Regions from separate parts of the Homo sapiens genome. Here regions 1, 3, 4, 5, 6 and 7 are each linked to region 2. The links come from fine-mapping of genetic effects on gene expression. A gene starts in region 2. Each other region holds a variant in brackets. All regions are shown on one strand. Distances are from middle to middle.

Evidence for each region. PIP is the estimated chance that this variant, and not a neighbour inherited with it, causes the effect.
Region 1: its variant is fine-mapped to the expression of RGMB in whole blood (INTERVAL, PIP above 0.99).
Region 3: its variant is fine-mapped to the expression of RGMB in whole blood (INTERVAL, PIP above 0.99).
Region 4: its variant is fine-mapped to the expression of RGMB in monocytes after LPS (Fairfax 2014, PIP 0.95).
Region 5: its variant is fine-mapped to the expression of RGMB in B cells (Fairfax 2012, PIP 0.95).
Region 6: its variant is fine-mapped to the expression of RGMB in whole blood (INTERVAL, PIP above 0.99).
Region 7: its variant is fine-mapped to the expression of RGMB in whole blood (INTERVAL, PIP above 0.99).

Annotation. Positions count from the first base shown.
Region 1 is chr5:98,727,988-98,732,056 of GRCh38, reverse strand. No RefSeq gene overlaps it. Among named protein-coding and RNA genes, the nearest start is that of RGMB-AS1, 43 kb to the left of the region's middle. The variant T/C (reference allele first, on the strand shown) is at 2,522.
Region 2 is chr5:98,771,680-98,775,748 of GRCh38, reverse strand. It overlaps RGMB (repulsive guidance molecule BMP co-receptor b), which reads right to left and starts at 2,086. Exons shown (of 3, transcript NM_001366508.1): 1 at 1,543-2,086. The coding sequence starts at 1,678. RGMB-AS1 (RGMB antisense RNA 1) reads left to right here and starts at 2,665. Exons shown (of 2, transcript NR_033932.1): 1 at 2,665-3,127. RefSeq lists enhancers at 850-969, 1,225-1,724, 2,460-2,509 and a silencer at 1,610-2,239.
Region 3 is chr5:98,503,919-98,507,987 of GRCh38, reverse strand. No RefSeq gene overlaps it. Among named protein-coding and RNA genes, the nearest start is that of RGMB-AS1, 270 kb to the left of the region's middle. The variant G/CTG (reference allele first, on the strand shown) is at 1,966.
Region 4 is chr5:98,698,259-98,702,327 of GRCh38, reverse strand. No RefSeq gene overlaps it. Among named protein-coding and RNA genes, the nearest start is that of RGMB-AS1, 73 kb to the left of the region's middle. The variant G/A (reference allele first, on the strand shown) is at 2,379.
Region 5 is chr5:98,794,050-98,798,118 of GRCh38, reverse strand. It overlaps RGMB (repulsive guidance molecule BMP co-receptor b), which reads right to left. Exons shown (of 3, transcript NM_001366508.1): 3 at 1,625-4,069. Among named protein-coding and RNA genes, the nearest start is that of RGMB, 22 kb to the right of the region's middle. The variant T/G (reference allele first, on the strand shown) is at 1,771.
Region 6 is chr5:98,663,700-98,667,768 of GRCh38, reverse strand. No RefSeq gene overlaps it. Among named protein-coding and RNA genes, the nearest start is that of RGMB-AS1, 110 kb to the left of the region's middle. The variant C/T (reference allele first, on the strand shown) is at 1,540.
Region 7 is chr5:98,876,374-98,880,442 of GRCh38, reverse strand. It overlaps CHD1 (chromodomain helicase DNA binding protein 1), which reads left to right. Exons shown (of 36, transcript NM_001270.4): 23 at 715-891; 24 at 3,885-4,045. Among named protein-coding and RNA genes, the nearest start is that of CHD1-DT, 50 kb to the left of the region's middle. The variant T/C (reference allele first, on the strand shown) is at 1,598.

The DNA of each region.
Region 1 (4,069 bases), 44 kb after region 2:
TATTTTTTGAAAAGTATTTATATGTGATTTTTGTAAGGGAAAGCTCCAAGGAAGGATGCAAGATTTATGAAGTATCAGCATAAGAATAAGTAAGATGGCTCAGCACAAGACAATAGAATAGCAACTGCTTTTTAAATGTTAGAAATGAAGTGCCTAGTTTCTGCCACATGGGCCACTGTCAGAATGTAATAATCAATCAGAAGCATTTTTTCATCTCCTGAAGCTTTAAAAAGCTCAGCATTATAGGCAGCTAATTAGCAATCTGAATTTCTCTATCAGGTGTGGTAAGGAGATAACTTAATGATATTATCTGATGGAGCCATAATCCCTTGCTTGGCCTTCTTTTTCTCTAAGGAATGACTGCCTTTAATTTTCAGTTCCAGAATTAGAAAAGCACTCTGTGATCAGCTAATAGACATATATTAGCTCTACCATTAGAGAGCTTGATTTTACAAACTTGGTCTCACTAGCACTATGGTTGATTTGAATAAATGAAATGTAGAACCTAATACTATTGTCTTGTACATGATGAGAATGCAATACATATTTATTGATATTAATGGAATTGAAAAAGACAGTCTCATGGATAAAAAAAATTACCTACTTTTCTTTATTTATCACCATTTGGATTATTAGATACTAGAGTGGGTGGACAATGAAAGGCATTAGCTACATGAGCAGGTTGGATACTAATTGATTTAGAACTTCTACTGTAGATTTTGAGGCTATTTTCAGTAACATAACTGTATGATTCCATTTTATATATATCTCTATAAGTAAACTTAGGGATAAAGATTGGTATAAAATATACAAAGAAATAAGTGATTAACTCCTTTACCTTATTGCTTACCTAACTCTTTTTTTACCATATAGTAACACAAAACTAAAAACTCCTAAATATGTTGTTTCTAGCTCAGGCCATGGGATTTTGTTTATTTTTAAGGATTTTGGCTGGAATGTGTCAAAACTAACTGGACCAAGGGTCCTGGGGGTGTTAACAAATAGTAAAATACATGCTTTGACTTGGTTAGACATCGCTTAGAACATTAATCATGCTCATATCATTTGGCTAAACTGTCTACCTCCCTGTTTTATTTCAATTTCCGTTCAGTTGTCAATACAGAGAAAAAATCTTGCAGTACCATTTATTTTCTACTTGTCTGGCATTTCTTAGTATATTCTGTTTTGTCTTTGAAAGATAAATGCACAAATTTTCAATAATTTAAAAGAATAGAAAAACTTCCATGGCCCAATTCTATACTTCCCTATGTGACCTAGAAAGAGGGCAAGCCCATTAATGTGGGATTTGATTTCCTAACAAAAGCTCTGCACTTATCAAAGCAGATACCTGCAAGCAGTCCATTTTCTCATATGGTAGGCATGTCTCCTGTTTTATGATCCTCACAAACAAATGGCAAGAATAGTTTAATTTTCTTACTTATACTAAGATATGCTCTATCTTTTTTGATCATTCCTAGCCGTGTCTTAGGTTTTTTTTTTTTCGTTTTGTTTTGTTTTTTTCTGAGAACAGGGCCCCTGTTGCCCAGGCTAGAATGCAGTGGTGCAATCTTGGCTCACTGCAGCTTCGACGTCCTGGTCATCAATCCTCCTACCTCAGCCTCCCAAGTAGCTAGGATTACAGGCATGCACCACCACCCACAGCTAATTTTTATATTTTTAGTAGAGGCAGGGTTTTCACTATGTTGCCCAGGCTAGTCTTGAACTCCTGAGCTCAAGCAATCCACCTGCCTTGGCCTCCAAAAGCGCTGGGATTACAGGCATGCACCACTGTGCTCCATTGACTCATCGTTTTAATTATCTACAAACGGATGAAGATCAGGAAAATGGAGAGAACCAACATGCTGCATTATTGAGTACTTATCATGTGACAGATTAGCTGTTAGAATATTCTAAACACACAGTCATTTTTTATCCTCCTCGCAACCTAGAGAAGTAGACACTCCTCACATTTTACAAAGAATGGTTGAAAGAAAATGACATGGTTAATAAGTGGAAAAGGTTGCTAAATCTGGATTCAAAGCCAAATCAGAAGCATGACATCAAGAGGGGCTAGGAAGGAACCAGAGGGCACAACAAGTGCTAAGTTCTTTTGGAAATTTTGGTCACCCCTTTTGCAGAATCAGACGTGTAGCATGATTATTTGTGTCCTTATTCTTTTTGCTGCACTAATTTCCCTCTCACAACAGAGGTAATTTTTGTTCTTTTAAAACTAATGTTTTTAAAGCTATTGACCTAGAATTGTCATCACATTTTTCCTGCTTCAAATGTTCTGAGTAGTAACAGAAATAGATTCTCCATCATTTTACTGCTAACCAGTTTGACTGTTCAAACAAAGGGAAGGAACCAACTCATGAATAGTAACATATGGGCTGGGCATGGTGGCTCATGCCTGTAATCCCAACACCTTGGGAGGCTGAGGCAGGAGGATCATTTGAGGACAGAAGTTCGAGACCTGCCTGGACAAAATAGTGAGTCCACATCTCTACAAATTGTAATAATA[T/C]AACAAAATATAAGTGAGAAATACTTTATCTGTTTTTATTTATTTATTTTTTTGAGACAGTCTTTTTCTGTCGCCCAGGCTGGAGTGCAGTGGCACTATCTTGGCTAATTGCAACCTCTGGCTCTCAGGCTCAAGTGATTCTCATGCCTCAGCCTCCCGAGTAGCTGGGACTATAGGTGTGCACCACCACACCTGGCCAATTTTTGTATTTTTGGGAGAGGTGGGGTTTTGCCATGTTGATCAGACTAGTTTCAAACTCCTGACCTCAAGTGATTCATCTGTCTTGGCCTCCCAAAGTGCTGGAATTACAGGTTTGAGCCACTGTGCCTGGCTGAGACTTTTTAAAAGTATTATATGTTGTGTTATACTTGCCTCCAGGTTGAAAACTCTCTCTGTAAAATACAGATGGGTTGGATATCTCCACTCTGGAATAGAAGTAGCCCATATGAGGAGGCAGGAGTCTAAAAACATAAAAAAAACGCTGAGAGAGTAAATAAGAACATTGAACATAATGGATAAGTAGAAAAAGCTTAAGGCCCTTGGATTCAAGAGAGGGAAAGGGATGCAAAGAAGTAGAAAATCCCCCACTGAACATTTTTCTCAAGACATGCTAGAAAAAAGAGAGGCAAGCATAGAGAGCTCTTCTAAGTGTGGAGCCATTTCCTTAGCCAAGGTTAGAGTGGTCATGAAGAGAACAGTTTTGACCTGGAAATAGGGATTACATTAGAAGAATCCAAATATATAGGACGTCCCCCTCAAGGAAAAAATTCACTTTTTATTTTTTTTAGTCCTCTAGTGAAGGATTAGGGGACAAAGTAAATGAAGTTTTAGATAATTATGAAAGTCAGATTGTTGTGTTAACTATGATAAATGGAAGTAACTTGAGAGTGGGTACTTATGAATTACACAACTTTACTCTGATATTACCATAATGTAATAAAAAGGGGTGTGTCCTACAAATGACTGTATAGATTCTCTTTTGAAAAGGGCGCTGTTGGGGAGGGGATGTAAAAGAGAAAACCATGAAACAAAGGCAAGAGAACTACCATGTTCTTTTAAATAGTGGTGTAGAAATTTTATAAAATCATAAACAAATTTTAACTGGAAGAAACCTTAGAATAATGATAATAATTATAGTTATTAGCTAGTGGCCACTTACTGTGTGCCAGGAACTATTATAAAAGTTTTTCATGCATTACCTAATTTAATCTTTGTAACAACACTTTTTAATAGAGATGATTATTAGTCTTCATTTTATAGGCGAAGAAATTGTGCCACACAAGGTAAGTAATTTTCCCAAGGTCACACTACAGAAGTAAGAAGCTGAGATGTGAACTCCAGCAGCGTGGCTCCACAGTCCATTTCTTAACCACTCAAGGAAATATGGGGTCAAGTTCACACTTAGATATGGTATCATTTAGGGGAACAGTAATTGCTGTGGCTATGAAACTTCAAAAATATAGAATAGCTTAAACACAATATGTTTGTATTTGTTCATATAACAACCCTGTGTGAACAACTGGGATCGTCGGACTCTCTGGCAAGGGT
Region 2 (4,069 bases):
AATTCTTGAACGAAGACACCCTACTTTTCTAAACCTTTAAGCCAACTTAGTATGCCTTTCACGGGCTAGCAAAGAAACCTTCAGGGACCACATTCCAATTCTGTCACAGGATCCTATGGCAACTATGGGAAACAATATCCAAGCAGCCAAGGGGGACACAATCCCACCTAGCACAATTTCCATTTCATGAAACTTACATTTTGGTATTATGGACACATATTTTTCGCACAAACACTCCTGAATATATCTTTTAACATGTCAAGAAAAATTTTCCACGTAACTACATGCAGATTGACACTATTTTCTAAGGTTCTTAGGTTACTAATTGAAAGCCGTAATCATCCTAAAACTTTCTATTACACTTTTTTATTAAGCCGTCTTTTCCCTAATTGTCGGTGTTAAAAAGCAGCTATTACATCATAATGCAAAGCTACGCAAAGTAAATTAAGTCTCCTCAGATGTCACATTTTCCCCCCCATTACTTAAAAGACCTCCCTGATTTTTAGCATGGCGGGTATGGTTTAATAAGTAAAAATTACTCCGCACAGTTGGGTGGCATCGAAGTTCAGGATTCTCCAGACCAGAACGTTGTGAAGTGTCTCATATATACAGGACAAAAAAGGTCTGGAAGGAAAAGAAACTTATCTAATGCTGTTTGTTCTCAAGACTAAAGGAAAATGACCCTTTCAACCTTAGCATTAAAAAAAATTCTTTGTCTAGGCAAATTCCTAGAAAAAAATAGTGTGAAGAGCGTCCTGGATTTTCATGAAACGATTTTTTAAAAAGAAAAATAGGTATCACATGGTAGAAGGCTCATTTGCAGGCTTACTTCCCTTGGAACATACGCCTCAAGGCTGGGGAAGCGCCGACCTCCAGAAGGCAGCATGGTTATCTGTCAACCCCTCACGGAGCCCGAAGACACCCGGCTAGTCACAAAACACGAGCTTTTCCCGGGAGGCTGATCGCTGAACAAACGCAGCTTTTGCCAAAACGAAAGAAATCCCTGCTCAAAAAAGTTGACGTTACTTCGAGATTAACTCCCAGGTTTGCAAAATCTGGTAAAAATCTTTCCATCTGGTGTACTTCCTTCGCCTCGCCGCCACCCCCAACTCCAGAAAAGCAGCACAAGGCTCCTTGTCTCCCTCCGAGGCGGCTGCGACGGCGGAAACCTGATCCGAGCCTGACTTTCAGTAAACACCAGCGCAGAGAGCAATAAAGCATCCGGAACATTTGTCTCGGGCGCGCGGCCCCCGCCCGCTAAATGTTTGATAAGCGGCTGTCGGAGGGGAGATTTGTCAGCGGTCCGAGCCGAAGGCGGGGAGGGTGGAGAGAAGGCTCGTCTCTGCGCCCGGCGGCCGCCCGGTGGGTGGCTGCGTTACTGTGGCCCGGAGCCCGACAGAGGTGCGTGTCAGGGGCTCGGGAGGCCTTTCCCGTTGCGCCACGCCGCCCTTCCGCCCCGGCGAGCGCCTTCGAGACCTGGGGCTATTTGGGAACAAAGCCCTAGGCCCCGGGGCTGGCTCCCCTCGCGCGCTCCCGTCCTACCTGCGTGGAGCAGCCCGAGGCTGAACAGCAGCAGCAGCAGCAGCTCCAGCGGCGGGGGGCAGAGCCCGGGGCTGCGGCGCTGCTCAACCTCGGCGGCGGCAGCGGCGGCGCTGGAAGGTGCTGCTCTCAAGCCCATGCCCGTCCATGCAGGTCTCGTGGGCTCCGGCGAGGGCGGCGGCGCGGGCGCCGTGGCGGGTCTGGGCCCGTGGCTGCGGCATGGGCCGGGGGGCGCGCTTCGCTTCCTCTTCTTCCTTCTTCAGGCCCGTGTAGCAGATGGGGCGCCACCACCGCCGCAGCAAGCAGCGCGCAGCCGGCGCAGCCAGTCCGCGGCGGCAGCAGCGGGGCGCAGGGGCATCGTGGCGGCCGGAGGCGGCAGGCAGGGAAAGGGGCGGAAGAGAAGACACAAAGACCGTGAGCGACTGCTGAGACGAGTCCCGAGCGCGCCGGCACCCCGGCCCCAGCCAGCGTGGGCTCGGCGGGCGTGGACCTCCAAGAGGCTGGCCCAGCCCTAGCGACCACCCACCGGCGGCCCGGATATCTCTGCGCGGCAGCCCCCGCGGTCGATCAATCTCAGTCCCGCACTGCCGTCCCGCCCCGCCCTGTGCCCGCCAATCCACGACGCCATAATCCCCCGCCGTGTCCCTCCCTTCCTCCCCATTGGTTGTGACCGCACGTCAGCCCGACTCAGCCTGCCAATCGCAGGACCCAGAGGGCCCTCTCCCCCGCCCGCTCAGTGTAATTCGAGTTCCCTGTCCATCGACTCCAAGTCCTCTCTCCTGCGCCGCATGCTGCCTCGCGCTCCCTTTCCTTCCCCCTCTACCCCCTTCCGCGATTTACTGTTTCCTCGCGCCCAACAGAAATGGGCGACCGCAAGTCTTACTCTCGCCGGCGTTACAAAGGTACCGGCCTTTGACCTCTCCTTGAATTAATGTGATCCGATTCATCTTCCCTCCAAGTTTTTTTTTTAATTTAATTACCCCTCCCTGCCCTGGCCCTGCCAGCTTCAGCTCCACCTCCTTGGAGGAAGCAGGCGCTTTTACAGAGCGCCGCGCGGCAGGTCCCCTTTCAGCCAATCACATCTGCGGAACCGCGTTCCGAGTCGTTTGAGGGTGTCTGGTAAAGCAAGCTCGGGGCGGTGTTGGAAATCTGAATGTCACCCGCGGTCCGGAGCAGATAGGATGGGCTGGGAAGGTACCCGCGAACTGCCGCCGGAATTCGCTGGCAGCTGTGCGAGGCTCAGGTGTTCTAGTTTGACATTTCCCTTCCTGAAAGCGGCAAGGAGAGGTCTAAGAGTGGGCAAACTTCAACGTTCGGTTACAGTGTAATTAATGAGAGTGGTGGGTTTTTATGCAGTGTAATTATGCCACGATTTGTTGTTGCTCAGTGGCTTTTTCACAAATTTCTACAGATTATTTAAATTTTCCACAAATTTCTACGGATTAATTCAATGGCAGCTCACTTTCTCCTTTTATGATCGGATGGGTCCGAAAGTGAGGAAAAAGACAATTGTCTACAAAGAAAGAGGCTGCCAAGTGGAGACAGAAAAGCAGTTATGAGACTGATGATAGATTCCAATTTGTTATCGGTAGGTGTGAAGTGGTATCTAATCTCAAGAATGACCTCAAGGCTGAGAGACACTTGATACCGCCCTCGCCTTTGCCTTTCCCCAAACAGCACAGGGTTGCCATTTAAAATCCACTAACATCCAAATCGTAGTTGGCAACTGTACCCGCTATGTTACTCAGAATCTCTAATTAGGAATTTCTTATCAACCACGGACATGCTGATATTCCACACATGTTTAAATGAGCTAATCAATGGACTAGGATAATTGAGGGGCAAACCTTCAGTCTCACCAGCTCACTTATTAGACACATTTTGAATTGCCCAAACCACTAGGTCCCTAATGAAGGATGCCTATCTGTTTTTACTGTAACTTTTCATTACTTACTTGTTACATACTATGATGACTTAAGGGGTAAACACACCTTTCACTATCCACAATATAATCCAAGCCTGTGTATATCCATAATACGCTTAATAATAGCTTCACAGTTGCCTGGAGAAATGACTTTTGGGGAGGAAGTTATATGACATTTTTAGATAATGCTGCGGACTAAGTATTATTAGAGCAAAAATTTACTATCTTGCAATTACTTCATATAATTAGATACAGTTCATGACATACTAAGAAGCATCTTAAAAAAGTAATCAAACATAATACTGATTTTCAAAGTATTTGGCTAACAAAGACTACATTTTTTTCTCTTAACCCAAGATTTAATTCGACCCCTATAAAAGCAGCATCTCACTTTATTGATCATACTTCAAAGCATATACTCAATAGTTAAGGATCAATAATTTCTGTTTGGTTTGGGTCTTTCCACTCGTGACTTTCTATGATTTTTTACTCCCCTCCCCCTATATCCTGTTCCATAAGTACACGGGTGCTCTAGATTTTCCTATCAATAGAGGGCGTCCTCGAGTCATTGCAAATCCTGGTGTCGTTAAACGGAACTGTTCTTCA
Region 3 (4,069 bases), 270 kb after region 2:
GCTGTTGTCATTCTGGTTACTCGTTCAATCAAAGGTAACCAATAATTGAATCTATAAGTGATTGCCAAAATATGCAGCTTTTGATGATGCTGTTATTTAAAGAAAGGTATCAAAATAATTAATTCTGTGATCAGAGAAATGAGCACAACCAATGGATCTAGAATTTGATGTTCAACCTGTTGAAATGCCAGAAACAACTTCATAAGGGGTTTTTACTTATTTTATTTCTTTATTTATACTTTTTTTTGTAACTTTTATTTTAAGTTCCAGGGTACATGTGCAGGATGCGCAGGTTTGTTACAGAGGTAAATGTGCGTCATGGTGGTTTGCTGCACATATCATCCCATCACTTAGGTATTAAGTCCAGCGTCCATTAACCATTCTTCCTGATGCTCCCCCTCCCCCAACACCACCAATAGGCCCCAGTGTATGTTATTCCCCTCCATGTGTCCATGTGTTCTCATTGTCCAGCTCCCACTTATAAGTGAGAAATGTGGTGTTTGGTTTTCTGTTCCTGTGTTAGTTTGCTGAGGATAATGGCTTCCAGCTCCATCCATGTCCTTGTAAAAGACATGATCTCATTCCTTTTTATGGCTGCATAGTATTCCATGGTGTATATAGATCACATTTTCTTTATACAGTCTATATTGATGGGCATTTAGGTTAATTCTATGTCTTTGCTATTGTGAATAGTGCAGCAATTAACATACACATGCATGTATCTTTATAATAGAAGGTTTTATATTCCTTTGTGTATATACCCAGCAATGGGATTGCTGGGTCAAATGGTATTTCTGCCTCTAGATCTTTGAGGAATCACCACACTGTCTTCCACAATGGTTGAACTAATTTACACTCCTGCCAACAGTGTAGAAGCATTCCTTTTTCTCCACAAAAGATTATACCATGAAATCATAATGTTAGTTTATCATCTCAGGGAATCTTTAGTGAGTTCTTTGCTATGTTTTGTTGCATTGATGTTCTTAAAATGTGTCATTAAGAAGATAGGAAAGGTGTTCATAATTGTAAAGTAAAATGAGGAGAGTGAGGCCTGCCACATAAGTGACATCTTCTCCCATCCCATGCAATTATTTTCCCTTGGTATCAGTGGAGACCTGTGTTCTGATTAAGAATGCCAAATTTCCAAACTTGTCTAATCTCATGTGAAAAAGGATGTTTTTAAAATGAGTTGAGCTGTGGGAACAATTCTCTCAGCACTTTCAAGAAGAGATATTGATTTTTTCCTTCATATTATTTTTCAGATTTCTTCCCTCTTTTCCATTCTTACTATCAGCCCTGAAGGCCAAATCTTCATCACTTAACTTGCTAGAAAAATAGTTCTCAATCTTGGCAGCACAATAAAATCTCTCTGGGAGCTTTAAAAAATATTGACATCTGAGTTGGAATCTCAGAGATTCTGATGTAATTGGTCTGGGATGGGTTCTGAGTGTTGAGATATTGAAAGAGGCCCTGGTGATTCTAAAGTGTGGCTAAGGAATGGAACCAATGACCATGAGCTCTCCTCTGCCCAGTCCATCCTGCAAACCACTCACTTAGTTTTAACTTGATAGCCATTATAATAACTGGCTCTTCCTTGGTCTTACTACAGTCTTACTAAAAGTACATCTCACCTCCATTTTTCTCATTTTTATTTTCTGTTTTAGTATAGACATTTAATCTTAAATGTTTGGAAATAGGAGTCAAATAGATGATAAATTTAATGAAATGCCAACGCTAGATAAATATTTTCCCAACGATGCTTCAATCATTTTACTCATTCAAAAATTCTTTAAACTTCCCTATTGCTAAGTTCCAAAACTCTTTGATCTAGCATTTAATATTTTTGAAAAATTTTAAAGCTCATTTTATTTTTCAGATTTACCTAGACCACTGCTGCTCTTTCTGTATCCCATGCTTTACTAAAATGAACTACTTGCTCTTCCCTGCAACGTGCCTCACGGTACC[G/CTG]TCTCTGTGCCTCTTCTTTTACTTTTCCGTCTACTGAGAATGCCTTGAACCAGCTCCAACTCCTTAAATATAAACCATCTCTAATATGCCAATTAATATGCCACTTTCCTTAATCAAACTTTTCAGTTTTGATGAAAATGGGGGTACTTCCTCCTTTATTTCAACTCCTTAAAACTCTTCTCCTTCTACATTTTATGCTTACTCTATGATGACTTATCTATTTTATTCTTTTCTCTTCCTTTCTTCCACTCTACTGAAAGATCCTCAAGGGCCAAATCCAAGGCTATTTCCTTTGGAGAAGGCTGTTTTAGAGTCACATTCTGTTTTTGTGTCCCGATTTTACCTTTACAAGATATGTGAATTATTCTTGTCTCTGGGTTTTGCTTTCTTATATTTTAAATGGGGAATTAATATCATGTTGTTCATAGAGTTACGGGGCAAATTAAATGAGTTATTCCATGGAATGTACTTAGAATAGTGCCCTGCACAAAGTGAGCACCTTCTAAATGTTAGCTATTTTTATTAGCTTGCTTTAACGGAGGCTAGGGTAATATCTTGTATATTTTAAGGAGTTAAAATATTTGTTAAACACAAAATTCTTTGGCACTTGGAAAGATTCCAAATGCCCAAACTATACATATTTTTAGCTTATAATCTTTAAATCATTTTTACAGCTACTTGAAGGAGCATGTGGGCCAAAGTGACCTGAAATTTTGTTTGAAAAAATGGAAAACATAATTTCTAACAGGTTTGGTATCTTGTGTTGAAAATCTTCAGTTCCATAGGTAGTGCTAGAGATTCACCTCTGTGAAATGCCCAAACCGTCAATTGTAGTGATTTATTGTGTGCTGATTTCCACAGGAATTAAAAAAATAGTTGAATATCCAGAAGCCATTGAAATTCTTTAGCTTAAAACAGGTATGTGCAAAGAAACTCAATAGGCGAATTATATATTCTGGGAACAAAATGTCTCTATATAGATTCCATTTAATAATATACACTTCACAGGTCTTTGGAGATAAGACTATAAATATGACTGTCAGATTTAAGCAATAAATATTTTAACACCAGCACATCTTAAACTCATATCCATTTATGTCTCCGATGTCATAAAATTGAATTGACATTTTGGTTTCCAAGACTGAAGAAAAGAATAAATAAAATGTTGTGTGACTGTACAATCAGTTATTGGGGGTTTTCCCCCTTCTATGTTGACTTTTGAAGTGTTTGAAGTGACTTTTTTGAAATTAATAATTAATCTCTTCAAGGTGTTCTTTTTGCAGTTGGTGAGGGCGGTCAATGTTAAGGGAAAACAGATAAGAACAGAGGACAAGTTCTGACTGACCAAGGCGGTGTGTTTGCAAGGGAATAAAACACTCCACAGATTGGACTGCTTGGTACTTGCCTCCTGGTTGTAAATATGGTCTTGTCTTCAGCCATTTCCCAGGAAACTTTGTCAAGGAATTAACTCTGGAGATATTTATGCAAATGAAGTATAATAGTGAAGGTTTGAAGTAACAGTTTACAGCTACTGAAAATGAGAGAGAGAGACAGAATACTAGAATTATGAAAGACTCTTCAGGGCAATGCTGAAGATAGTTTATCGTCTAAGTCACATATTGAGAACGGCACTTGGGAATTTATTACGTATTTTCAGTTTTTACATTTTCACCTGTTTCTGGCTTTCCAAACTATGTTTGTTCATAGAATTTATGGCTGGTATTTCATTCAAATCAATGGAAGATCAAGCATTTGTATTCTTGGAAGAAACTGTATTTCTTTATCATACCTCATGTAGAGCTTATTATGTTCCAGGCAATGTGCTCTAAGTTTTACATGTAATTACTAATTTAATCCTCACAACAACCCTATGAAATAGATGCTATTATTATCCCCATTTTATGCATGAAGTAATTGAGGCCCAGAAAGATTAAATACCTTGCTCAAGGCCACAGAACAGGTCAGGAATTGAAGTCACACTTTCTGATTCTGGAGGTCAGGCTTATATCCTCTAAGTTATGCTGCTTCAGAATGAAAGACACAGCAATCACAATAGGAATCAGAGCATGTTCTCACTGCAGTTTCAGCATTTTGCTTTTGTTGT
Region 4 (4,069 bases), 73 kb after region 2:
AGAGTTTCTGCTGAGAAATCTGCTGTTAATCTGATTGGTTTTCCTTTATAGGTTACCTGATGCTTTTGCCTCACAGCTCTTAAAATTCTTTCCTTTGTCTTGACTTTAGATAACCTGATGACTATGTGCCTAGGTGATGATCTTTTTGTGATGAATTTCCCAGGTGTTCTTTGAGCTTCTTGTATTTGGAGGTCTAGATCTCTAGCAAGACCAGGGAAGTTTTCATCGATTATTCCCTCAAATATATTTTCCAAACTTTTAGATTTCTCTTCTTCCTCGGGAACACCAATTATTCTTAGATTTGGTTGTTTAACATGATCCCAAACTCATTGGAGGCTTTGTTCATTTTTTAAAATTCTTTTTTCTTTGTCTTTGTGGCATTGGGTTAATTTTAAAGTCTTGTCTTTGAGCTCTGAAGTCCTTTCTTCTACTTGTTTGATCCTATTGCTGAGACTTTCCAGTGCACTTTCCAATACAATTCTTTGTGTCCTTTATTTCTAAAAGTTGTGATTGTTTTTTATTTATGCTATCTATTTCACTGGAGATTTTTCCATTTATATCCTGTATCATTTTTTTAAAAATTTCTTTAGGTTGAACTTCACCTTTCTTTGGTGCCTCCTTGATTGGCTTAATAGTCGACCTTCTGAATTCTTTTTCTGGCAATTCAGAGGTTTCTTGGTTTGGATCTATTGCTGGTGAATTAGTGTGATCTTTTAGGGGAGTTAAGTAGCTAGATTTGTCATATTACTAGAATTGTTTTTCTGGTTCCTTATCATTTGGGTAGACTTTGTCAGAGGGAAGATCTGGGGCTCCAAAGCTGCTGTTCAGATTCTTTTGTCCCATGGGTGTTCCTTTGATGTGGTGCTCTCCCATTCCCTCTAGGGATGGGGCTTCCTGAGGGCCAAACTGCAGAGATTGTTATTTCTTTTCTGGATCTGGCCACTCAGTGGAGCTATGGGGCTCCAGACTGGTACTGGGCAGTGTCTGCAAGATGTCCTGTGATATGATTCATCTTCAGGTCTCTCAGTCATGGATACCAGCCCCTGCTTCAATGAAGGTAGCAGGGGAGTGAAGCAGACTCTGTGAGGGTCCTTGGTTGCATTTTTGTTAAGTGTGCTGATTTTGTGTTGGTTGGCCTCCAGCTAGGAGGTGGCATTTTCAAGAGTACATCAGCTGTGGTAGTATAGGGAGAATCAGGTGGTGGGTGGGGCCATAGAGCCCCCAAGAGATTATGTCCCTTGTCTTCAGCTACCAGGGCAGGTAGAGAAAGACCATGAGGTGTGAGCAGGGTTAGGTGAGCTCAGACTCGCCTTGGGTATAGGCTCTCCTGCAGCTGCTGTGGGGAATGGAGGTGTGGTTACCAGGCTAACTGAGTCATGTTCTCAGGGGGATCATGGCTGCCTCTGTTGTGTCACACGGGTTTCCAAGGAAGTGGGGGAAAGTTGGCAGCCACAGGCCTCACCCAGCCCCCATACAGCCCACAGCCTGACATGTTGGTCTCACTCCCACCACACACCACCAGCAGCACCAAGTTTATTTCCAGGAAGCCAGTGAGCATGGCTGAGAACTTTCCCCAGGCTGCAAGCTTCCCAGCTGGGAAAGCAAGCAGGCTTGCAATTCTTTGGTTGTCCCATAGGCCTGAAGAAGCAATCTGCCTCCTTCAAAGGGTCTGTGGATTCTCTTGGCTTTCCTGGTATGTTTCTGCAGTAGTTCTTGGAGCAAAAGTTCATGATGTGGTCTCCACATGCTGCTGTGTCTGTCAGAGTGGGAGCTGCAAGTTAGTCCTGCCTCCTATTCACCATTTTCCCCTTCAAAACCAAACAACAACAACAATCTGCATTTTATTGCTTACGAAGAATGTACTTTTTGGGAGTTAGTTTTAGAAAAAGGCTTTAGGCATTTTACACATTTAAATAAAGGCCATGTAACAATAACACAAGTGTTTAAAGTGCTAATACTGGTGGTATGGTGGCTCACACCTGTAATCCCAGCACTTTGGGAGGCCGAGGCAGGCATATCACAAGGTCAGGAGATCGAGACCATCCTATCTAACATGGTGAAACCCCCTCTCTACTAAAAATACAAAAAAAAAAAAAATTAGCTGGGAATGGTGGCACACATCTTTAGTCCCAGCTACTCGGGAGGCTGAGGCAGGAGAATCACTTGAACCTGGGAGGCAGAGATTGCAGTGAGCCGAGATTGTGCCACTGCACTCCAGCCTGGGAAACTGAGCAAGACATCTCAAAAAAAAAAAAAAAAAAACAGTGCTAATACTTCATTCATTTTGATCAATCCTTTGAGATATGGAAAAGCAGACATTATTACCTAGGGTTGCTTAGGAGATATCTCTTTCTATATATCTCACCTACAGGGACAGG[G/A]ACCTTCCTGATCAATCTTTTTCTACAAATTGAGGTTTGTCAGCTTGTCTTCAGGCATTGGGCAAGTTGGAATTTTGGGGAGAAACAAAATGGTTGGCTTGAGTGTCTTGATTTCATTTCACTGGCCAAATAATGTCTTTTTGCTAACTGCTGAAAATAACTTTTGATATGTATACTCATTTATGTTTTGGCAAACCATGATTAAGATCTTGAAATACCCTCACTTTAATATATTATGCCACTATGTTTTCTGAATTAGAATTCTAAGGGTGAATTACTCTCAGATGTTGTACTGAAAGAGTTAGAGTTTCTTTGGTTATATCTTCCATTCATGGAGGTTTACGATCAAAGGATTTTGGAGGAGAGAGAACCTTAGATATCTTCTATGCAATAAACTTTTGCCCATATAGTTATCCCTTTCGCTGTCTCATGTGTATACAGTCTCCCAATTTTTGAGAAAACATGACAGTCTCATTGCTTAGCCTATGAAATCCACTTCTCCATGTACAACACAATATTGGCAAAGCTTATAATTTATTCTCATCCAAAGAACAAGATATTTTGGTGGCACCCTAATGAAAGCTTGCTACAGTCACTTTGGCTGCTCTGTGGTGATTATAAATCAAAGGTAGTACAGGTAAGAGATGGTATTTGGAAATGATCATGTTATTAAACAATTTAAGTCCCTTAAATGTCAATATGCTTTAATATACCATATTTTGAGAACATAATTGTAATGCAAAACTGGTATTTCAAAGAAAAGACAAAGAAATTAAATAATTATAGTTTTTTTGCTTAAATTTACAAATCAAAGTCAGTTGATGTTTATGCATATATTCCAAGTTTATTTATTTACTATCTTTAGTGCTTGGCAATCAATAGAGACTATCAGTGGTCAAGAATTGCATGCAGACAAAATAAAAACAAAAATGTGAACATCAGTGTCTTCCTTTTTTCTTTACTCATCCTTTAACCACTGTTTCTTAGAATGTTATCTCAGAACCCACCTTCATTTGAATTGTTAAAATTTAGAGTCTTGGCACCCATCAGAACAATGTAATTGTAGTGTCTGGGTTGTGGCCATTTATTTTCAAGTCCTACATATGATTGTTCTGCCTTAATAATTGTTAATATTCCTTCCAATGGTCTCCTACTTGCTTCCTCCTGGCAGTGAATCTACCTTAATCTTAACTGCTTCCTTCAAGTACTTTATTAAAGCCATCTTTACATTAAAAATAAAGATTCTTAATGTACTGGTATATAGTTACAGACTTCACTTATCCTAGGCAGCCAAACTGCAACTTGCTGATAGTAACTTGCTGATAATAAAGGAATGAGCAATATTGTGAAAGATTCTGTACAGTCATTCCCTACTTACAAAAAACTAATTCAGAGGTAATGCCTGGTCTTGAATCAGTGGCATCATCTTTGCAAATAAAAGAATAGCTCATTAATGATTAATTTTCATGCTGTCATGAATGGAACAGAGTGGTTTCCAAATAACACTCTGCTCTCTCTCTGAACCTTGGCTATATTATTCTTCCAGTAGAATTTGCTTACACTTCATTTCTGGTCATCAGTCAAGTCAGTTACAGAAGTAGTCAAGACAGGAGAGGTGGAGTGCAAAATTAGGGAATAATAAATGCTAAGTTTCAAGTGACAGGACCTAATGTCTTTCCTGTTGATCTTTT
Region 5 (4,069 bases), 22 kb before region 2:
CCAAATTGCTGGGTTTACAGGCATGAGCCACTGTGCCCAGCCAAAGAGCAGTAAATTTAAAGGAAAATACCATCTAAATAATAACAATTGCTTTCATGTGACTTGTCCATTTGGAAGACATACAGAAAAGGGATAGAAGCAGAAAGAAACAATATGGTTTAGGTTTAGGTAACAATATGGTTAGGTAGTGAAATAATAAAGAACTTTGAAACTGCTCCTTGAACATCCTGATTACTTTCTCTGTGGGGGAGACATTGGTTCACATACAAATAGAACAGGGAGAAAATCTGCAGCAAGGTATCTTTGCTCAGAAAGGACAGCAGCAATCCAAGACTGTTATCCCAGCTAGTTCCAGACAATAGAATACTGCCAATGCTACAAAATTAAAAATAAACAAGATAAAAAATAAATCAGATAACAGGACTCTTAGGGTTGATGTCGCTGTTGGGATTTTGGAGTTGACGTTTCAGTCCCCAAAGAGCTGGAGTTCTGGGAATGAAGACAGAATGGTAAAGAATTATTTTTGACTTTAAGCATAAAAGTCAAATAGTCTATAGCACATTTCGTTCTGCTATAGATTATCTGCATTCTTTCAGCACAGACACATCACTGGGTACTCAGTGACTATGTCATTTCATCCTATTTTATGTGGTTCAGCTGATATGATTGTCTTTTTTTTTTTTTTTTTGCTCTGAACTGCTACATGTAAATAGTCAACTGCAATGGTTAAGCTTTTTTCTTTAAGAAACGATTATGGCCAGGTGTGGTGGCTCATGCCTGTAATCCCAGCACTTTGGGAGGCTGAAGCAGGCGGATTGCTTGAGTCCAGGAGTCTGAGACCAGCCTGGGCAACATGGTGAAACCCTGCCTTCAGTCTCTACAAAAAATACAAAAATTAGCTGGGGATGGTAGCATGCACTTGTAGCCCCAGCGACTCGGGGGGATCACTTGAACCCTGGAAGTTGAGGCTGTAGTGAGCTGAGACTGCACCACTGCACTCTGGCCTGGGTGACAGAGTGAGACCCTGTCTCCAAAAGAAAAAAAAAAAAAAAGAAGAAATGATTACATGTATGTTTATCCCAGTCAGAATCTGATCCATTTAGTATTCTACCTAATACAAGTAACAGTGCTTCTCTGTGCCTTTTGTTTCAGTTATTTTCCTAACTTTTCTACCCTTTGGTGTGTTTCTTGAACAAAGACCAACTTGTGATCTCTTGATGTCTCTTTTTAAAACCCAAGAAGTGAGGATTTGTTTTCAAAGCCAGAAAATCCTGCCTTCCCAAATCCTCCCCACCAGGAGGAAGTCGTTACTGTTCACATCACCTTAAAAAGAACTAGAGTGCAGGCTGTATGTCTTCAAGGGACCAAAACTGTTACTAAAGACAGAACTTTGGGACAATACTAGTGGACCAATCTCACTGATACGGATTTGTAACTGCTTAAAATTTCAAAAGAAAAAAAATGACAGTAATGCTATAGTTTTGAAAATCAGCGAATTTGTGGGCAGGTGGCATGACTTATCAGTAACCTTTAGGGATTTTATACAATTCCCCCTCCCCCGACTCCCTTTCTTCTGCAGCTCTCAGTTCTTCCAGCAGGTGTCCCTATAATCACAGAACAGACATTCCACAGCAAGGTATGTAACTTTATTTTTCTAGCATAATAATTTAAAGTATTTACACACTGCACACTCACTGTTTTACACAGATACGTATTCATATATCTATGAACCACATCTAAAGGTTTCTTTGCAAAGACTCGACACACTGT[T/G]GGGGGGGGGGGAGCTTCCAAGCATAACAAAGAGGACAAAAAAAAGTTTTGAGTCTTTTAAAGACAGCCATGTGGAGCATCTGTGAAAACCAGTGTTTCCCCCGTTTTAAGCTCCCCCAGGAGACCTCTGAACAGCTATAGCCTATCCACATGTTGGTATGACCTGAAATTCTTCTAGCTAAGGTTTCAAGAACCAACATGTGCAAGCAGCATTTTTTCTAGAAATCTCAAAAAAGGAGAAAATAAACCTGGCCCTTACGTAGAGAAATACATCTATTTCTGAAAGTAATCTGTGGGGATTGTTTTACAGGGACACCGATTACAAGGGCAGAATAGCAAAATACACTATTACTAGTGATGCAGGGTGCTTTTAAATGTCACTTCCAGCTAAATGATATGGCAAAATAACCCAATCTTCTTTTCCCAACTATCAGTAAGGGTGGTTGTTATTTTCCCTGAAAAGAGCAAAGGTATATTTATTAATGATACACACTCTAAACCCAGATCCTATAGAAATTTCTTCTATTGCTTTTACTTCACTTTCATATTATTTGCACAAAAATAGTGGTTATCCTCCGTATTTTTTCCTCGCTTGTACTACTCAATTATAAAACAAATTATTAACGATAGCTTCTGAATTTGGTACATGGCATCATAGGTGAACAAAAAAAGCCACAGTTCAGAGCTGATGGTCAGTCCGTCTCTAGTCCAGCTTCTATAAAAGGAAGGCGGGTTTAGGTTTCAACTCTCTATAGTTGAATCTCCATGAGTAAGAAGGAGATGCCTTCCTTATTTTCCCAGACTGCCCAAGATTATTCTCTCATCAACACAAGGTAGAGGTTTGCCACCTCTACATGAATTCACAACTCCACTCTGTGACTGGGTGGCACATCAGTTCGCTAAGAAGTTAAACTTTACAAAATGACGTCCTCTTCCTCTTGCCGGTATGGGCCTCTGGCAGTGTCACTGATCAATAGGACATGGCAAAAGTAACTACCTGGAGAACTAAAACTAAGCATAATCTTGGCCTGAACTACTACGGTAAAGATAGTATCTTTTATTTCTGTTTATGTAAACTTATCAACAAATTATTAAAGCAGAAACTCTATCACTTCTTGGAACTAAAGATTTACATCTAGCTATAACAATAGAAACCTACCTATCCTGGAGTTAACTTTCTCAGATTACTGCTCCTGACTTTTGCTGTTCTTTTCCTTTTGCAAGGGGGTGCCAACAATGGATGGAAGAGGCAAGGAGATCTTACTTTATAGGAATTTCTCCAAGTTACAACGAGCAACTGACCAAATCATATTCAACTACAGGTGTTGAGAGAGAGAGTACCTGACTTCAGACCACCTGGGAAGCACAATGCTTAGTTAACAAGAATATCTGGATTAAGCAGTGCCGAAGTGGCCGCACACCGAGTCAGGCCAAGGAAGCTCTTCTGTCATTGCCGCCCAACTCTGTTCCACTTTGCATGCAGACATATCAAAGACTGTGATGAAGATCATGGTGGACAAGGAAGAATGAAAAACTTTGTGATGGGATCTGGGCCTCTACATTAGAGAAAGAACCTAACAAACCCCAGTTCTTTGGATTCGTAAGGTGAGGCTGAGGAGGGCTTACTGGAGTTGGAGACAGGGAGAGCTGTGTTTCTGGGCTCAAAGCCAAGAAACGGTTAAGAAGAGGGGCTTGCATCAGTCATATAGATTAAAAAGAGCAAGGCATGATAATTACTAAATTTATAGTTTCATGTTTTAACACAGAAGAGTCAGAGGGAAAACTGACAATTTAAAACGGGGCATGGGATGAGAAAAAGTCTAGGAGTTACTGAGATGCCTGGTACTTATCTACAAAACTTCCATCACTAGACCCTTTTGACCTACGAGAATAGCAGTTTCTATGGTTCAACCTAATACACTGTATGGGCTCAAATATATAACAATTAGAATTGAGAGTAATCAGAATACCAATAATACCCCCCCTTCTGAAAAAGTAACAGCTCTTAGATGAAGAGAGCTTCTTAAGATCAGCGTTTAAGAGTCAAAGCACCTGTAAGGGAGAGTTAACGACCCTTTCAAATCAAGTGAGGGCAGAAGGGTGAGGGCATAGTTCAAAGGAACGAGGCAGCTCCACCGGAAGGTGGCGAGTAAAAGCTGCACACCGTGGCAAATCAGTAGCAATGGGAAAGGGCAGGAAGGTACAGCCAAGAATAGCTACAAACAACTGGTCACCTTCAAAGGAAACGCTGCATATGGATGTCTGTGTATATGTACTATACATATCAACCAAGCACACA
Region 6 (4,069 bases), 110 kb after region 2:
TTACGTTTCCATTATAATTTGTTTCAAGAAATTTTTTCAATTTCCTTGTTAATTTCTTCATTGACCCACTGGTCACTTAGAAGCACGTTGTTTAATTTCCATGTGTTTGCATAGTTTGCAAAATTCCTCTTGTATTGATTTCTGGTTTTATTCCATTGTGGTCAGGAAAAATGCCTGATATTATTTGAATTGTTTTGAATGTTTTAAGACTTGTTTTGTGACCTAACATGTGATCTATCCTTGAGAATGATCTATGTGCAAAGGAAAAGAATATGTATTCTGTAACCATTGTCTTAAATGTTCTGTAAATATCTGTTAGAGCCATTTGTTCTATAATGCAGATGGAATTCGATTTTTCCTTGTTGATTTTCAGTCTGAAAGGTCTTCCCAATGCTGAAAGGGAGGTGTTGAAGTCTCTAGCTATTATTAGTTTAGGTCTATATCTCTCTTTAGCTCTAATAATATTTGCTTTATGTATCTGAGTTCTCCAACATTAGGTGTATATATGTTTACAGTTGTTATATCCTCTTGCTGAATTGACCTTTTTATCATTATATAATGATCTTCTTTGTATCTTACAATTATTGTCTTGAAATCTGTTTTGTCTGGTATAAGAAGAGCTACTCCTGCTCTTTTTTGGTTTCCATTGCCATGGAATACCTTTTTCCATTCCTTTATTTTCAGTCTATGTGTATCTTTATAGGTGATATGTTTTACTTGTAGGCAATAGAACATTGGGTCTTGCTTTTTCATCCATTCAGCCCCTCGTGCCTTTCAATTGAAAAGTTAGCCCATTTGCATTCAATGTTGTTATTGATGAGCAAAGACTTATCCTGCCATTTTGTTATTTCTTTTTCTGGTTGTTTTATGGTCTTTTCTTCCTTCCTGTCTTTTTTTAGTAAAAGTGAATGTGGTGGTATAATTTAATTCCTTGCTTTTTAATTTTTTTTGTATTTGTTGTGTTTTTGATGTGAGGTTACTGTGAGGCTTGCAATTACTCTCTTATAACCCATTATTTAAAACTGATGACAACGCTGATTGCATAAACAAACAAACAAGCAAAAAGAAAACCAATAAAAATTCTACATTTTAACTTCATCCCCCTGCTTTTTAACTTTTTGTTGTTTCTCTTTATGTGTTATTCTACTGTCTTTGTCTTCGTCATAAAAAGTTGTTGTAGTTATTATTTTTGATTGGCTCATTGTTTAGCCTTTCTACTCAAAATAAATGTGGTTCACACAACACACGTACAGTGATATAATATTGTGTGTTTTCTGTGTGCCAGTGAGTTTTATACCTTTGGATGATTTCTTATTTCCAATTAATGTAATTTTCTTTCAGATTAAAGAACTGCCTTTAGCATTTCTTGTATGACAGGTCCAGTGTTGATAAAATTCCTCAGCTTTTGTTTGTGTTTCTCCGTCATGCTTGAAGGATATTTTCACCAGATATACTATTCTAGGTCTTTGAGGAATTGTCACACTGTCTTCCACAATGATTGAACTAATTTACATTCCCACCAACATTGTAAAAGTATAC[C/T]TATTTCTCCACAGCCTCGTCAGCACCTGTTGTTTCTTGACTTTTTATAATCACCATTCTGACTGGCATGAGATGATATTTCATTGTGGTTTTGATTTGCATTTCTCTAATGATCAGTGATGTTGAGCTTTTTTTTCATATGTTTGTTGGCTGCCTAAATGTCTTCTTTTGAGAAGGGTTTGATCATGTCCTTTGTTCACTTTTTAATGAGGTTGTTTGTTTTCTTCTTACAAGTTTGTTGAAGTTCTTTGTAGATTCTGGATACTAGACCTTTGTCAGATGGATAGATTGCAAAAATTTTCTCCCATTCTGTAGGTTGTTCACTCTGATGATAGTTTCTTTTGCTGTGCAGAAGCTCTTTAGTTTAATTAGATCCCATACGTCAATTTTTGCATTTGTTGCAATTGCTTTTGACATTTTTCATCATGAAATTTTGCCCATGTCTATGTCCTGAATGGTATTGCATAGATTTTCTTCTAGGGTTTTTATAGTTTTAGGTTTTACATTTAAGTCTTTAATTCATCTTGAGTTACTTTTTGGGTAAGGTGTAAGAAAGGGGTCCAGTTTCAATTTTCTGCATATGGCCATTCTCCCAGCATCATTTGTTAAATATGGAGTCTTTTCCCCATTGCTGTTTCTGTCAGGTTTGTTGAAGGTCAGATGGTTGTAGATGGGGGGTCTGATTTCTAAGTTCTCTACTCTGTTCCATTGGTGTTCCATTGTTCTATGTGTCTGTTTTTATACCAGTATGATGCTGTTTTAGTTACCACAGCCTTGCAGTATAGTTTGAAGTCAGATAGCATGATGTCTCCAGCTTTGTCCTTTTTCCTTAGGATTGTCTTGGCTATATGGGCTCTCTTTTGGTTCCATATGAACTTAAAAGTAGTTTTGTCTAATTTTGTGAAGAATGTCAATGGTATTTAATGAGAACAGCATTGAATCTATAAATTACTCTGGGCAGTATGACCATTTTCACGATATTGATTCTTCTTATTCATGAGCATGGAATTTTTTTTATTTGTTTTTTGTCCTCTCTGATTTCCTTGAGCAGTGGTTTCATCCCAGAGGGGCACTGACCTGATGCCAGCAGGAACAGTCCTGTATAATGTTTTTGGTGACCCCTGTTGGGGAGTCTCACCCAGCTGGGAGGCACAGGATCAGGAACCTGCTTAACAAAGCACTCTGGCTGCCTCTTTGTGAAAGGGTGTGCTGTGCTGGGGGGAATCCCATTCATCTGGACTGCCCAGATTCCTCAGAGTCAAGAAGGGAAAAGACCAAGTTCGCTGATCCATGGAGACTGTGGCCACCCTTGCCCCCAGGGGCTCCATCCCAGGGAGATCAGCATTCTCTTTGTAAACCCCTGGATGGGGTTGCTGAAATTCCCACAGGGAGGCTCTACCTGGTGAGGAGCGATGAGTACGGGTCTGGCCTAAAGAGACAGTCTCTCCATGATCTGCCACAGCCGCTGTGCTGCATTGTGGGGAATTCCTCTTTGGTCCAAACCACCCAGTCTCCCCATTACCAGCAGGTGAGAATGGTAGACTGGAGCTTCAGTGATAGTAGCCATCCCTCCCTCTGGGAGCTCAGTCATCTTAGGCAGCAGGCAGCAGGCAGCTGCAGTGATAGTGGCTGCCCTTCCCTCCAGGAACTCGGTAGTCTTAGGCAGTCTCCAGCTAAGCAGCCACTGAGAATCTTCACAGCTCTGTGGGCTTACAAGGGGATCTCCTGATTTGTGGGTTGCATGGATGCATGGAAAAAGTGTGGTTTCCCAGGTGGGGTAGCACAATCACTCACTACCTCCCTTGGCTGGGAGTGGGAGCTCCCCTTGCACTGTGCAGCTCCTGGGTGTGCTGTTACTCCGCCCTGCTTTTCCTCACTCTCCATGGGTCTTGCCAACTGCAAAGTCAGTCTCAGTGAGAGAACCTGGATACCTTAGTTGCTGCAGGATTCATTCACTGTTTTCATTCTTCTTGGTAGGCACCTCTGACCATAGCTGTTTCTAGTCAGCCATCTTGGCCCCTCCTTTTCCTGGATGGTCTTGATGTTTGTAGATGTTCATCAGTGTCTGGGCATCATTAAAGAGTTAGGCATTTATTGTCGTTTTGCAATCTGGGCTTGCATTTTTAGGAAGGCTTTCCAGGTATTTGAAGGAACTTGGCCCATCCAACAATGCTGTGGTTCTTAGAAACTTGTAGAAATACTGCCTTAGTAGTCTTGAATAAGATCTAGATGAGTTCTCTGAATTACCAGGTAGATACTCTTGTTTTTTTCCTTTACTTTCTCCCCAAAAAACAGAGTGTCTTTCTTTCTCTCTCTCTCTCTCTCTCTGTTCTGAGCTGCCTGGAACTAGGTGTGGGTAGACTCAGGCATTCCTGTGGCCACAACCACCAGGACTGTGCTGATTTAGACCTGAAGCCAGTACAGCACTGGATGTCATCCATGGCCTGCTGTAACCACTACATGGCTACCACCTATGTTCACTCAAGGCCTTAGGGCTCTATGACCAGCATGTGGTGGAGCCAGCCAGATT
Region 7 (4,069 bases), 100 kb before region 2:
TACAGTGTACCCCACACAGTGAATAAAAAACTTTTATAATTTTAATGAATCATTCTGACTACTTTGTGGTTGATTGACTGTAGTGAGGAAAGAGCTATAGCAGGGGGAGATAAGACAGAATGTTGAGTAATCCTGGTTAAGAGGTGAAGGTTTCTGGAATCACAGGCGTGAGCCACTTCGCCCGGCTGTGATAGTTAGCCTTAATGGGTGCTTTCTGTATACCAGACCTTGCATAGTACCTTAAATGTGCTATCTTATGTAATCCTCACAGAAATTAGTGTGCTCTCAAAGAGCTCTATGTCTCTGCCAGTAGCTCTTTAGATAGTGTTTTTGTGACCATAAAAATGATATTAGATTGTTCTACAATACTTGATAGGTGGACTGGTCTGAGAATTTCTGCAGATTATTTAGCATGTTAATAGTATAAATTACTTTTTTGTTGTTCTGTTAACTGCTCTTAGTTCTGTGATGCTACTAATTTTGTTGAGCAGTAGGGCAAAATAAAATCATTCCTAGAGGATTATTAGATGTCATTTGGTTTGATCTGCTTTGCCCTAATGAAGAAATGAATCTAGGTTGTTTAGAAGTTATATTTGGTTTAGTCCACAGCCATGTTCATTATCCTAAGGAGCATGCCAGTTCTTCCCCTTAAAAAAAACTTTTAGGGATCAATTTTTCTGTAACAGTTACTCTTAAAATTCTGAAATTTATCAGGTTGCCAACTTCTCAAATATGGATGAGGATGACATTGAGTTGGAACCTGAAAGAAATTCAAAGAATTGGGAGGAAATTATTCCAGAAGATCAAAGAAGACGATTAGAAGAAGAAGAAAGACAAAAGGAACTTGAAGAAATTTATATGCTCCCAAGAATGAGAAATTGTGCAAAACAGGTGATTTTGCAATTTTAAAGATATTTCTATAAAGTAAGAGTATTCAACCTGGGCTGATTTTGTTTGTTTCTACGAGGTATCAGTCCATAGTTTTCTTTTCTTGTAATGGCCTTGATTTGATAATGTTTGCCTCATGAAATGAGTTGAGAAGTGTTTCTTCCTCTTTTATTCATCTTTTCAAAGAACCTGCTCCTGGTTTCATTGATTTTTGTGTGTGTGTGTGTTTTTAATTTCATGAGTTTCCACAATTTATTATTTCTTCCTTTCTGCTTTTGATTTAATTTGCTGTTTTCTTTCTTTTCTTTTCTTTTTTCTTTGGTGACAGCATCTTGCTCTATTGCCAAGGCTGGAGTGCAGTGGCACAATTCTGGCTCACTGCAACCTTAACCTCCCGGCCTCAGATGATCCTCCCACTTCAGCCTCCCAAATAGCTGGGACTACAGGTGTGTCCCACCACACCCAGCTGATTTTTGTATTCTTTTTGTAGAGATGGAGTTTTACCATGTTGTCCAGGCTGGTCTGGAACTTCTGGGCTTAAGTGATCCATCTGCCTTGGCCTACCAAAATGTTGGGACTATAGCACGAGCCACTGCACCTGGCCTCTTTTATTCAGTTTCTTAAGGTGCAAGCTTAGATATAGAAATGTAATCTCTCTTTTCTAATATCGGCATTTAATGCTACAAATTTTTCTTTAAGCGTTACTTTT[T/C]CTGAATCTTCCAAATCTATTTTTATATTTTCCTTAATTTAAAAACATTTTAAAATTTCCCATATGACTTATCTTTGACCCACAGGTTTTTTTAGAAGTATGTTTTAAAATGTTCAGATATTTAGGAAATTTTTCAACTATGTTTGTTAATCATTGGTAGTTTAATTCTGTCATGTTCAGAAAGCATATTTTATGTAATTTTAATTTTTAAAAATTTGTTGGTGTTTATTCAGTGGCCTAAGTAAACAAATACCAAAATTTTGAATAACTGTAATAGTGCCATGCCAAGCTATATTGCCAAAAAGGAAAAAAATTCTAAGACTAATTTCTTTTTCTAGTATCCTTTGGTTTTTAGGATATAAGATTTTTTGTCTTGATTGCTGAGTTTTTTCGTGCTTCCTTAAATTTTAAGCCTGGGGCAAATGAGGGGCTTGCCCCACTCTAGTCCCTGCCCTGCTACCATTCCCCGAAGGGTAGAGCTTTTTGTTTTTTCTTTTCTTGCAACCGTATTAGATCTTATTCTGTTCCCTCAGTTGAGCAGATGGGAAAGGTCTGGCAAGGCTTCCTTCCTGTTTCCACAAAGGTGACTGCTCACTTTCTCCAAGGCTGTACCATGGAGGAAAGTTTTCTCCAGTCTTCCTTCTCATGAGCACCTGGTGGAAGTTCGTGGCAAAGTGCTTGAGAGTGGGTGCAGGTCCTCCGAGTTTTGGCTGTTAGGTCCTGTGATCTCACAATAGCGTACACTCAGCCATTAGCAGATTTTAGCTGATCTCCTCTTACCTGCTTGTATGGTACTTGATTTCTGTCACCTGTGTTCTTCACAAATGAGCCACTGTTCAAGTCCTCTTTTTCTCTTTTTGTAATCTCCTGTATATCCTTACATTTAGATGTGTAGGTTGCCGTGTGATTTCATCTCTCTGATGTTAAACAGAAAAATTATGATTTTGTACATCAGATTTGTTGTTAGAGTAGGAGCAGTGCCCCTACCAAGTTTCTACATAACAGCCAGAAGTAGAGCCAAAAATAATGCTTTTGGCCTGAAAGTAACCATGCATGTTATTTCTTGTTTCTGTTTATTTCTCCAAACCCCTAAGTAGTTTTGTTTTAGAGTGTGTGAGAATGCAGCATTGCATTAGATCTTGTGAAAGGATCAAGGGAGGTTAGAAAAAAAAGGTCTAAATACCATTTTTTACTTCATTTAACTTTCAGCATATTAGAGGTTCGGAATATGTGCCAAGGCTTTGGAAAAACTCCCAAGACTTACAGAATATATGTTTTGATGTATCTTATTAAAATTAATGGATGTTACAAATAGCCTTTTATGTGGGTTCAACTGGCATTTTTTTCTTTCAAATATCTGATTTGTCTAGTTAGAATAGCAATATGTGGATATTAAGCAGAACGGAAAAAAAGACAGCTAATCAATCTGTTCATCCAGAGATAGGACTGATAACATTATCACAGTGTACATCATTCTAATTTTTAAAAATTCATTATCATTTGCCAAATTAAGTTGGAGTTGTATTAATTTGGAACTTTTTCTTCTTTTTGACAGTATGTCATGAATGTTAATTATTCTACAACCCCATTTTTAATGGTGTCTCAGCATTCTATCGTATAGATTTGTCTGGTCTCTCTTTGATGAATATTTAGATTATTTGCTTTTTGTTTTTGAGACAGGATCTCACTGTGTTGCTCAGGCTGAAATGCCATGGTATGGTCATGGCTCACTGCAGCCTCAGCTTCCTGGGGTCAAATGATCCTCCCACCTCAGCCTCTCATGTAGCTGGAACTACGGGTGCATGCTACAAAAATACCTGGCTAATATTTTAAATTTTTGGTAGAGACAAGGTCTCACTATGTTGCCTAAGCTGGTCTTGAACTCCTGGGCTCAAGTTATCTTCCTGCCTTGGCCTCCCAGTCATGCTGGGATTACAGGCATGAGCTGCTGCACTCAGCCACATTTTTCTTTTATGATGTAAATTACTTTATTGATCAATGTTTCTTCACAGTTCTGATCTCCTCAGGAAAAATGCCTAGAGGTTATGTTGCTGCGTCAGTAGAATAACTTTTGGAGGCTTTTGATATAATGTCTGATTACCTTTTAAATCAAAATATCCACCAGAGGTATATATTTTTCTCTGTTTGCTCTTTAATTTTGTTTATGGAATGTTTTTGATACATTTAATAACATTTTTAAGATTCCGACCATCTTTTATAATGGTTTTTGCTCTTAAGATACAAGCTGTTTTTACACTAAGGTTGGGTAAATATTTTCCAATTCCAGATTAGTTTCAATGGAAGTGAAGGGAGGCGCAGTAGAAGTAGGAGATACTCTGGATCTGATAGTGATTCCATCTCAGAAGGGAAAAGGCCAAAGAAACGTGGAAGACCACGGACTATTCCTCGGGAGAATATTAAAGGATTTAGTGATGCAGAAATTAGGCGGTAAGGTGTTATAAGACAATCGCT